Linked DNA regions of Homo sapiens. The protein of the gene in region 1 purifies or fractionates together with the protein of each later gene. This does not show direct contact. Each region holds a gene or a part of one and is shown on either strand. Other genes may lie near its edges.

Region 1 (3,754 bases):
TTCTTGCTGGTCTGTGGCTTCTAACCTCTTCTCCTCCTATAAGCCTAAATGCTGAAATGGAAGCTAAGCTGGGTTCCATGCACAGAGTGAGAAGGATGGTTCAGCTCACGGTGACCTCTCTTTAGAGCTTCCCAAGGACCAGTACTATGTCTTGGAAACACAGTGAGGTGTCACTTAATGACGGGGACACATTCTGAGAAATGCTTCATTAGGCAATTTCATCATTTTACAAAATCATAGATTGTAATTACACAAACGTGGATGGTCTAGTCTACTCCACACCTAGGCTATATGGTATGGCCCATTGCTCCTGGGCTACACACCGGTACAGCATTCCTGTAATGGGTACTGTAGGCTATTGTAACACAGTGCTAAGTATTCGTGTATCTAAACATAGAAAAGGTAGTGGTTGCACCACAACACTAAGCTGAAAAATAGGAATTTTTCAGCTCTGTTATAATCTTATGGGACCACCGTTGTATATGTGGTCTGTCGTTGACTGAAATGTCTTCATGCAGTGCCTGACTGGGGCTATTTATAAATACTGTTTACTGGGGGCAAATTTATGAGTCAGAGCAAAGCAGTTTCCTCCACTGTCTTACCAAGGTCAATGACTTCTACAACACTCCACATGTGCTTTTTTGTTTGTTTTTGGGTTTTTTTGTTTTGTTTTGTTTTGTTTTGTTTTGAGACAGGGTCTCACTCTGTCGCCCAGGCTGGACTGCAGTGGCATGATCACAGCTCACTGCAGCCTCGACTTCCCAGGCTCAAGCCATCCTCCCACCTCAGCCTCCCCAGTAGCTGGGACTATGGGCATGTGCCATCACACATTTTTGTTGTTGTTTTGAGACAGGGTCTCACTGTGTCACCCAGACTGGAGTGCAGTGGTGCAATCTTGGCTCATCACAACCTCTGCCTCCCTGCAACCTCCGCCTCCTAGGTTCAAGGGATTCTCCTGCCTCAGCCTCCCGAGTACCTGGGATTACAGCTACTACTACCACCCAGCTACTTTTTGTATTTATATTAGAGACGAGGTTTCACCATGTTGGCCTGGCTGGTATTGAACTCCTGACCTCAAATTATCCACCTGCCCGGCCTCCCAAAGTGCTGGGATTACAGGCGTGAGCCACTGTGCCCAGCCACATATGTTTTTAAAGAATCCCAAATTTTAAGACATAAGACCTGTTCCCAACTTAGACGATGCCTGCGTGGAACAGAGAAGAGACATCTCAACTTCCGGGAATGGGGGTGGGGGGATATGAGCTGCCTCTGGAAGGAGGTAAGCCTCTACTCATCCCTACTCCCAAGGGTAGAAAAGTAAAAAGTTAAAATTACCTCTGTGTTACTATTAGACTGCAGCTGTGAGATCCTGCGTGGCTCTCCTCCCCTATGGAGCTGCTTTCTGCTGGCCAGGCATGACCCAAGAGCGAGATGGGAAGGAAGCAGAGCAGCCGTTGCTGCTTCTCCTTTTTGTGCTTCCTTTTCCCAGGTGGCTGGGGGGCGGGGCTGGTGTCACGGCCCCTCCCTCAGCCCTAGGGCGCCTCAGAGCAGTCATCTTGCTGGGCTTGCCACAGAGAGGTCCCCGGCTCTGCAGGTCCTGGCAGAGCAAGGCCCAGTGACAGCTCCATTTTTTAGCAACTCAGACTTGGGTGCCTGAAGGAGGGAGCACGAGCTCGGAGCTGTGTCCAAGCGCAGCCGCCTTCTCTCTTCCCTCAGGATCCTCTGAGCTCCTCGCAGAGAATTCTGACCTCTTCCTTTCAGTACATGCCTCAAGGTTTTTCTGGTGGCTAGAGATTCTCTGATTTGCTTGGAATCACACATGGTTTGTTGTTGTTGTTGTTGTTGTTTTGTTTTGTTTTCTATTTGAGACCGAGTCTTGCTCTGTCGCCCAGGCTGGACAGCAGCCTCCGCCTCCAGGGCTCAAGCGATCCTCCCTCCTCAACCTCCTAAGCAAGTGGGATTATAGGCAGGTGCCACCATGCCCAGCTGATTTTTGTATTTTTCATAAAGACAGGTTTCACCATGATGGCCAGGCTGCACATGTGTTCTTTTAAAAGCTGCCTATGGCCAGGCGTGGTGGCTCAGGCCTGTAATCCCAACATTTTGGGGGGCTGAGGTGGGTGGATCACGAGGTCAGGAGTTCGAGACCAGCCTGGCTAACATGGTGAAACCCCGTCTCTACTAAAAATACAAAAATTAGCTGGGCGTGGTGGCACCTACCTGTAGGCCCAGCTATTTGGGAGGCTGAGGCAGGAGAATGGCATGAACCCGGGAGGCGGAGGTTGCAGTGAGCCCAGATCACACCACTGCACTCCAGCCTTGGTGACAGAGCGAGACTCTGCCTCAAAACAAAAACAAAAACAAAAAACAAAAAAAGCTGTCTACATATGATGAAAACATTCTTTAAAAGGTATGTATGATGCAGATCAACCTTTAAAATTGTGTTAATGTAGTGATTAAAGTTACCGTTCAATTTTTTCTTGAATGGTGTCACTGTGTTTTTCCCAGTAAAAATGACACCTCTAGAAAATGTAATTTTTAAAAAATTGGCTAGTCGCCGGGCATGGGGGCTCATGCCTGTAATCCCAGCACTTTGGGAGGCCAAGGCAGGAGGATCGCTCAAGCTCAGGAGTTCAAGACCAGCCTGGCCAATATGGTGAAACCACGTCTCTACAAAAAATAATAAATTAACCAGGCATGGTGATGTGTGCCTGTAGTTCCAGGTACTTGGGAGATTGAGGCCCAAGAACTGCATGAGCCCAGGAGGTGGAGGCTGCAGTGAGCTGAGATCACAGCACTGCACTCCAGCCTAGAAGACAGAGTGAGACTCTGTCTCTCTCCTATTTTTTTTTTTTAATTGAGATGGAGTCTCGCTCTGGCGCCCAGGCTGGAGTGCAATGGCACAATCTCGGCTCACTGCAACCTCCGCCTCCTAGGTTCAAGCAATTCTCCCACCTCAGCCTCCCGAGTACCTGGGATTACAGGCACGTGCTACCATGCCTGGATAATTTTTTTATTTTCAGTAGAGACAGGGTTTTGCCATGTTGGCCAGGCTGGTCTCCAGCTTCTAATCTCGAGTGATCTGCCCGCCTCGGCCTCCCAAAGAGCTGGGATTACAGGTGTGAGCCACTGCACCCAGCCGAGACTCTGTCTCAAAAAAAAAAAGAAAAAAAGAAAAAAAATTGACTAGTCAGAAACCACTGATTCAGTAGGTATTGAATTTGGATATGGAGTCACAGTGATTTAGCTCTTATAACCAGTAATCTTTGTGCTGTTTTCTGCTTTCCCATGCATTATTTCATTAAAATATCAAGACTCAAGTTGGATGTTATGACTCTTCCATTTTACAAGAAAAGAAGCAGGCTCGGTTGGAAGGCCGAGGCGGGCAGATCACAAGGTCAAGAAATCGAGACCATCCTGGCCAACATGGTGAAACCCCATCTCTACTAAAAATACAAAAATTAGCTGGGCATGGTGGCGCACACTTGTAGTCCCAGCTACTCGGGTGGCTGAGGCAGGAGAATCGCTTGAACCCGGAAGGCGGAGGTTGCAGTGAGCTGAGATCGCGCCACTGCACTCCAGCCTGGTGACAGAGCAAGACTCTGTCTCAAAAAAAAAAAAAAAGAAGCAGGCTGGGACAGGGTGAATCATTGACTCATGATCTTGCTGCGTTTTATAATTCATCTCTTTCTCTTTTACCATGTCATGCTACTCACACAGAAAGTGCCTTGTAAATGGCAAACACCAGATTGTT
Region 2 (3,754 bases), on another chromosome or scaffold:
ATTTAATTCTGATTTTTTTTAAAACCCTCCATCTACATTCTTAAAAACTAGATGGAGGGCTTAAAAAAACAAAAAAACTCTACTGACCTCTGGGTGTAGAGAAACACAATTCAAATTATTTTTTTAATCTCATTGTGGTCTTTTTGGATAATATAACCATTTAAATTTTTAAGGCAACTTAACCTAACTTAACTCTGGTCCATTTCCTTCATTTCCATGAAATTCTGCGTACTGCAGGTGGGATGGGGGACTCCCACTGCAGTCTCAAATACCGATAATATGTTACCAGACACTGTGCTCTACTATACTTGATGTCCTTAAAGAAAGCTTAATAACAATATAGAAGTAGGTATCACAAGGCTTTTTTTTAAAAAAAAATAAAGATGCTCTGAATAAAAGCTATAACATGACATTAAAATTCAACTTGGTTAAAGTAATTCTACAATGGACTGAAGGGAAGTGATAATTATTTTTTAAATATGAAACTAAAAAACAATGTAGGCCACTTTGATGAAGATGGTATCATACATATACTGTATTCAGGTATTAGATAATGTGTGCTGGGGAAAATATAAGATATGGTCTCTACTATCAAGATGCTCCCATTTGCAGAGATGTTATAAGTACTATTATAAAGCTATTTAAAATGTTTTATGAGAGTAGGGAGGAGCAAGTGACTAACTTGCCTTAGAAGTCCAAAAAGGCTTCCTAAAGTAAAGTAAGTATCCCTGAGTCTTGAAGAGTAAGTAGGAATTCACTGAGCAGAAAACAAGGAAACAAGTATTCTTAGTCATGGATGCATGAAACAGCATGATGCTTTCAGGGAGATAAAAACAACTGTGTGATTTTATGGGAATGTTATAGAAGATAAAATTATGCAAGAATTGGATTATGAAGGGTCTCCTACATTATTCCAAGAAGACAAACTCCATCTGAGCAAACAGGAAGTCACTGAAGGAAGTTTTACACAATTGTTGTACTTTATGAAAATTACACTTATATACAAAAAGCTGGAGAGTAGCCAGGCCAGAGGCAGATAAGAGTTTAAGATCTTGACCATAAATGTTTGAGATTCAGAGACAGCAGAACCTGGACATTTGATTAAGCTATAAGGGATGAGAAAGATGAAGGATTTTAGGATAAATCTCAAGTTTGGTAGCTGATGGTAACTTTAACCTAGGCAGGAAATTAAAAAAGGAGAGCAAGTTTTAGAGGAAAATGATTCCAGTCTGGACATACTAGGTGATCTGGTTTGGATCTGGGTTTTGGATTTGTGTCCCCACTTAAATCTAACATCAAAGTGTAATCCCAATATTGGAGGAGGAGCCTGGTGGGATGTGATTAGATGCCTCCCCTTCCACCACGATTCTGTTTCCTGAGGCCTCTCCAGCCCTGCAAAGCTGTGAGTCAATTAAACTTCTTTCCTTTATAAATTATCCTGTCTTAGGTATAGCAGCGTGAGAATGGACTAATAAATACAAGGGGCCTGGTGGGAGATGACTGGATCATGGGGGCACATATCCCCCTTGCTGTTTTCATGTCAGTAAGTGAGTTCTCATGAGATCTGGTTGTTTAAAAGTGTGCCGCACCTCCCCCTTCACTCTTTTCCTCTTTCTCCATCCAAGTAAGATGTGTCTGTTTCCCCTTCACCTTCCATCATGAGTGGAAGTTTCCTGAGGTTTCCCCAGCCATACTTCCTGTACAGCCTGTGGGACTGTGAGCCCATTAAGCCTCTTTTCTTTAAAAATTACCCAGTCTCGGCCGGGTGCGGTGGCTCACGCCTGTGATCCCAGCACCTTGGGAAGCCAAAGTGGGCGGATCACGAGGTCAGGAGTTTGAAACCAGCCTGGCTGACATGGTGAAACACCGTCTCTACTAAAAATACAAAAATTAGCCGGGTGCAGTGGCACCCGCCTATAGTCCCAGCTACTCGGAAGGCTGAGGCAGAAGAATCGCTTGAACCCAGGAGGTGGATGTTGCAGTGAGCCTTGATCATACCACTGCACTCCAGCCTAGTGACAGAGCGAGACTCTGTTTCAAAAAAAAAAGAAAAGAAAAGAAAAATTACCCAGTCTCAGGTAGTTTTTTATAGCAATGCAAGAATGGACTAATACACTAGATTTCAGCAGTACATGGGGCATCCCGCAGGCGACACTAAGTAGGCAATTGGAATTATGGGTCTACAGCACGGGAGAGCTGTAACTACTAAACCATGATCTATTAAAGAAAGTAATTCAAGTAGTGAGAATGTCCAGGGAGAATATATAAAGAAGGGAATCTGGCCTCAGAACAAACCCTGGAAGCAGTAACTTTAGCTAGTGGCCAAGAAATCAGTGACAAAAACCAAGAAGAAACAGAGAAGGATCATAAATGTGTTTTCAAGAAAGATGAAATCGAAAAGTCAGTTGTGCCTAACGCTAATCACAGTTAAGCAAGTCAAGACTAAAAGTATTCTCTGAACTTTAAGTAAGATACAGCATTTATTACGTTGGTAATGCTGGTAAGAGCAACACTGAATGAAATAGTTAGGGTAGAAGTCAGACTGAAAAGAGTTGAAAATAAATTGGAGGTAGTGGGGGAAGTAGTATGAATGTACCGTAAACCTATCCAAATGACTTAGCTGTGAGGAAGAGTTCTAATGCTAAAAGACAAAGAGTTGAAGAGGAAGACGTACCCATATGTGTGATTATTATTTTTAAAACAGGAGAAATTTAAGCATTTAAGTGAGGGCAGGAACCAGAGTAGAGAATGGGATTTGATGGAGTTAGGAGTCAGGAGGGTGATCAGAATCAGAGCCTAAATGGAAGCTCAGCTTTGATATTTTTTGATATAAACGGAGAGCTCTATCATCCTCTGTGGTGACAGAATAAAAGTAAGTTTGCAGATATGAGGGAAGAAATTTCTGCCTCATGACTGTTTTCTCTGTGATGCAGAAGGAAGCTTTCTGTGAAGTTTTGTTGATGATCATAAAATTTTTAAGTGTGCAAAATTTCATATAACCATGCTAGATTGTGTATATTGCATAATTTTAATCCTTTACTTTGCAATACTTTGTAGTTGCTATTGCAAACTGAGTTTTCAAAGAATCTTTTGAATTCCTAGTTTTATAGAAAATGAAACTAAACATCACTAGTCCACTGTTTAATCCTCCTACAGCAAATATGAGAACAATGAATGTGTGACATTCTGTAAGTTTAGATGAAGAAACAGATCAATGTAGATGACAAGTTTAATGGCAACTCTAAACTAAATGAAATTTAAAAAGCAAAATTATTCTTCAGTAAGTTTTTTTTAAAGCAGAAGAGTCATAGACTACACTGGGGATATGGAATTTGAAATAGTTGAGTATAATTGAAATTTTTACAACCCAATAAAAAGGAAAATGGTACCTAATAATTGAATAAATTATTACTATGTTAGTAAAATTATATACAGTAATTATCACATTCACCAAAAACCTACTACATGTCTTCTATATAACAGTTAAGAACGTTTTGTCTGTATATAAAATGTTATATAACTTCATTTTAACTAATATTGTTATTATTTTAGTAAAAAGTAATTAACGGTCAAACTTTGCCTTTGTTTTCTAAGCTGCATATCTTCCATCACTCCTTGTATGTGGTCCACATTTTCTTTATTTTCAATGGTTACATCCTTTCCATAGGCCCAGGATGCCTGATTGGAGATCTGATCCAGGAGACCTTGACCTTTTTCACGCAAACCTTGCAATCCCACATCTAAAACAAAAGTT
Region 3 (3,754 bases), on another chromosome or scaffold:
CCCTTTTGTTTCTTCAAAAGCTTGGTGTAGTTCTCTTTACTATTTTAAGATTATTTAATCTTTAAAGATACAGACGCGATTAAACTCTTTCCAATTGCAGAATGTCAGATGTAATATTTATTGTAATGTAATATTTATTGAGCTCCTATTATATGCCTGACACTGTGCTAAATCCTTTATGTACATTATCTCACTTAATCCTCATTACAGCCTCTCAAAATGGGTGCTATATTATCCCCATAAGAAAACAGGCTCAGAGAGATGAACCAATTTGCCCAAGATGATATGGATAAAGGCTGAAAGCAGGATTTGACCTCAGGTTTGACTGACTCCTAGAACAAAATTTTGTCAGTATAATATAGTTCCTACTAAAAGTACGGATCTAGCCATCCAGAAGAGAGGGAATGCCAGATATTTCTAGGCCTGTCTTAATTTGCTCAAATTGGAGAGAGGAAAATGGAACCTGTTAAAAAAAAGGGGGCTTTTTGGTGTTAGATTTGAACAAAAGGCACCAACTCTTTTGTTTCTTCAAAAGCTTGGTGTATTTCTCTTTACTATTTTAAGATTATTTAATTTTTAAAGATACAGACTCGATTAAACTCTTTTCAATTGCAGAATTTCAGATGCAGTTATGGCTGAAACAAGACAGCAAGCTTCTGAGAAACTGAAGGATGGGCCTGAACAGAAAGGGAAATTATTTTCTCTCCTGAGCTCAGTCAGTCCTAGGTAGCTCTGGAGAATAGCCACTGAGGGATCACAAAGATGGGGCAGAAAGCTGTCTAAGGCAACTATCTGGTTTCATGTACATCCAACTGCTCAACTCTTAAGTCACAACCATCTGGCTTAGGCTTAGATGAAAATCACCAATTTAGTAATGACTAGAATCAGCAATGAAACCTCTTAGTCAGTCACACTTTACATACCAAATTATAAGCAAAATTATTTCTTTCTGGGGCTGTTTGTAAAAAGGACAACATTTAAGAATATGGAATCTATCCTTTACTTCTTTTGTGGGACACAATGAGTTCTTCTACAGCCCATATAGAGCCACACAAAACTTTGAAGGTTAAGGAATTAATGCAGAGAGGAGTTTAAGCTGATACTTAGGTTAACATGAGGACACTCTGTTCAGCAATGTTCATATTTGAAAGAGACAAAGCCTGAGAAAACACATTGCAACAAATCATGCAGCATTAGATTATTGGAAAGATCAAAGGATTTGACTAGGTCTATCCATGTCCACTGCCAAAATCCACGGCAAATTTATGAACTTGGTCTTTTTAATTCTCTGGGACGAAGATTTAAACTGCACTGTACTAAACCGGCAAAAATTTAATCAGCTAACAGTACTAGATGCTAAAAAAGAATTACTGCCATATGAGCTAAAGATTTTTTGTTAATTGCATAGCAGTAAAATTTGTGAACCCTGGTGCTTTGGGAGAACCAAAGTATTATTAAATTACTGTGGCCTAACACATTTATAGAAAAAAAAAAAACATGTTGGTTGTAGTAAGTTTCCAATGTCTAAGTTGAAGCTCTTTCTCTAACAGTAAATCTAGACCACAGAATGGGAATACTGAAAATTCTGGTTAAGGAACAGACTTGGTAAAAAAGATGAGGGATGTTAAGGAGCCTTCTATGCAGGACGTCACACTGAGGTGGGAAAGACAGGTTGCTTGAAATACCCTCTCATAACCTCACTTGACAGTGGCAACCTTATAAAAGGAGCCCCAAATGGCTTCCTGAAATGATTTTACACAATGTCTGACATAATAAACACACATACACAAACCTAACTTTCCCAATAACACTGCATGTCTCAATATATGAGGAGGTAGAATGCAAGAGGCAGAAATATCAAAGAAATCACTGAGAAATAGATACCTTTGGTCTTGTGTCTACAACATACATAAACTGGCTCCCTGGGTTTGTTTGGCTAATGGCCTCCAACAAGAGCTCATCATCTACACAGCGAGTGTAAAATCCAGAGAGAGGCTGGCTACAGCGGCAAATGGCAGCCTGTAAGGAAAAGGTGTGTCAGTTGAGTGATTATATTCACAAATGGTCAAAAATCTTTCTTGACCCTTGCCAGGTTCCATGAGTAGAGGGAGAGGATGAGCCAACTTAAGATAGTGTCCAAAGCAAAGAGAAATGTGACTCTAAAGTCATTCTCCACTGACATTGGGCTTAACCTCCTGCCTACCCTGGGCATGTGGCTCTAATTTCCAACCCAGTCTTGGTAAATCAGACTACAAAAAAAATCACATCATGAGTATTTCCTTAGTGAAATTCTATTCTCGATATATAATGGGCTATTTTTCTGAAACCGCCTCACTTTTTACAGTCCCAGTAATATTGCCCACATAAACCATAAGCTTGCGGAGGCAGCAGAATTCAAGATAGAGCAAAGATCTACAGCGTCTTAAGAAAACAGGGTTCACTAGTTTCAGAAGTTAATGCCAAATCAGAAGGGTGGTTTGTTTCAAGCCACTTTAACACAAAAACAACGTAACTATTTAACATGAATGTCTGGTAATGATTAGTTCATGAAATTCGTTACACTTTGATGTGGCTTTTAAGGGGTCAACTCACTTCAATAATATGACACCCAATTGCATTACTATACTCCTTAGCACTTGAACGGTTGCCCACCTGACAACTTGCCTATTTGTCTAACCCCAGATCTCAGAGTGATTACAAGAGGTGATAAATATTATCACTTCCTACATAAGTAAGGGGATTGAAACACAGAGGAGTCAAGTGCTTTCTTACTACTACCTGAAATTATATGAAAAGCACTAAGAAAGTATCAAGGATATCTGTATTCTACTGGGAGGCCACAGCCCCCAAAAAATCCTGTATACAACTAATTTTCTGTCATTTCACAACTTTCCACAAAGCTGGATCCCACAGAAAAGGAAAAAAAGAAAAAGAAATAAACATACTAAAATGACACTTAACATCTGCATAACATTTTACAATTTACAAAGTACATTGTACATATTATTCCTACTGAGATCCTCTCAAAAACCTTCAGAAGTATGAAAGTCCAGAGAAGTTAAGTAACTTGCCTGAGGTCACACAGCTACTAAGTGGCAGCATGAAACTTAAAACAGGTCTTCCAGAGCCATGTTTAATTATCATTAGAGAAATCTGCTTAACTTACATTGTTCTCTTTGTAGAGGTAGGAGAGCACAGGGACACGTTCTTTACTTCTGAACTTTGAACTTCCAACCACCGTTCCCAAGGTAACAGATTTAGGAACCACTATTTCAGGAGGGTAGGTGCTGCATATCTAAAAGAAAATAAGCACAATATATATAAATATATATTTATACATTTATATATAACTGTCTCTTTGGAAATACGTATTTTGGTAACCACTAAAAGCTGATAAACTTGAGAAAATATGTCAGTCTTTTCATAGAGTAAGTCACACCTAAAATGTCAACACCTCCACCCCAAGACTAGTGTTTTAAAGGCCGTCCAGATATGAATACTAGGAACCTAGTATGTAGTTTATGAAAGAGTACATCATATTTCCTCCTCCTCTACCTGTCTGCTTCATATTTGTGTCCGTTCATATTAATTCACTTGTTTACAGTTATTGTTTTTGCTCTGATATGCACACGTAGGAATTTCAACATGGGGTTTTATGTGTGTTTCTGTCTATGATTTTTGTTTTTCTAATTCTAAAAGTACATTTTGTTCTTATATGTCTCAATCCCTTCCTTTCTAGAAAATAATAGCACAC

What was found.
Region 2: the proteins of ARL11 (region 1) and SESTD1 purify together in Homo sapiens (affinity purification with mass spectrometry; 2 studies listed by BioGRID and IntAct, with this or other methods). This does not show direct contact.
Region 3: the proteins of ARL11 (region 1) and MTMR8 purify together in Homo sapiens (affinity purification with mass spectrometry; 2 studies listed by BioGRID and IntAct, with this or other methods). This does not show direct contact.

Annotation. Positions count from the first base shown.
Region 1 is NC_000013.11:49,626,197-49,629,950, reverse strand, and holds the start of ARL11 (ADP-ribosylation factor-like protein 11), read right to left. Parts: upstream 1,445-3,754; 5' UTR 1,336-1,444; intron 1-1,335.
Region 2 is NC_000002.12:179,118,190-179,121,943, forward strand, and holds part of SESTD1 (SEC14 domain and spectrin repeat-containing protein 1), read right to left. Parts: intron 3,741-3,754; coding exon 3,581-3,740; intron 1-3,580. UniProt on the Homo sapiens protein: May act as the primary docking protein directing membrane turnover and assembly of the transient receptor potential channels TRPC4 and TRPC5.
Region 3 is NC_000023.11:64,346,776-64,350,529, forward strand, and holds part of MTMR8 (phosphatidylinositol-3,5-bisphosphate 3-phosphatase MTMR8), read right to left. Parts: intron 3,296-3,754; coding exon 3,167-3,295; intron 2,020-3,166; coding exon 1,885-2,019; intron 1-1,884. UniProt on the Homo sapiens protein: Lipid phosphatase that specifically dephosphorylates the D-3 position of phosphatidylinositol 3-phosphate and phosphatidylinositol 3,5-bisphosphate, generating phosphatidylinositol and phosphatidylinositol 5-phosphate.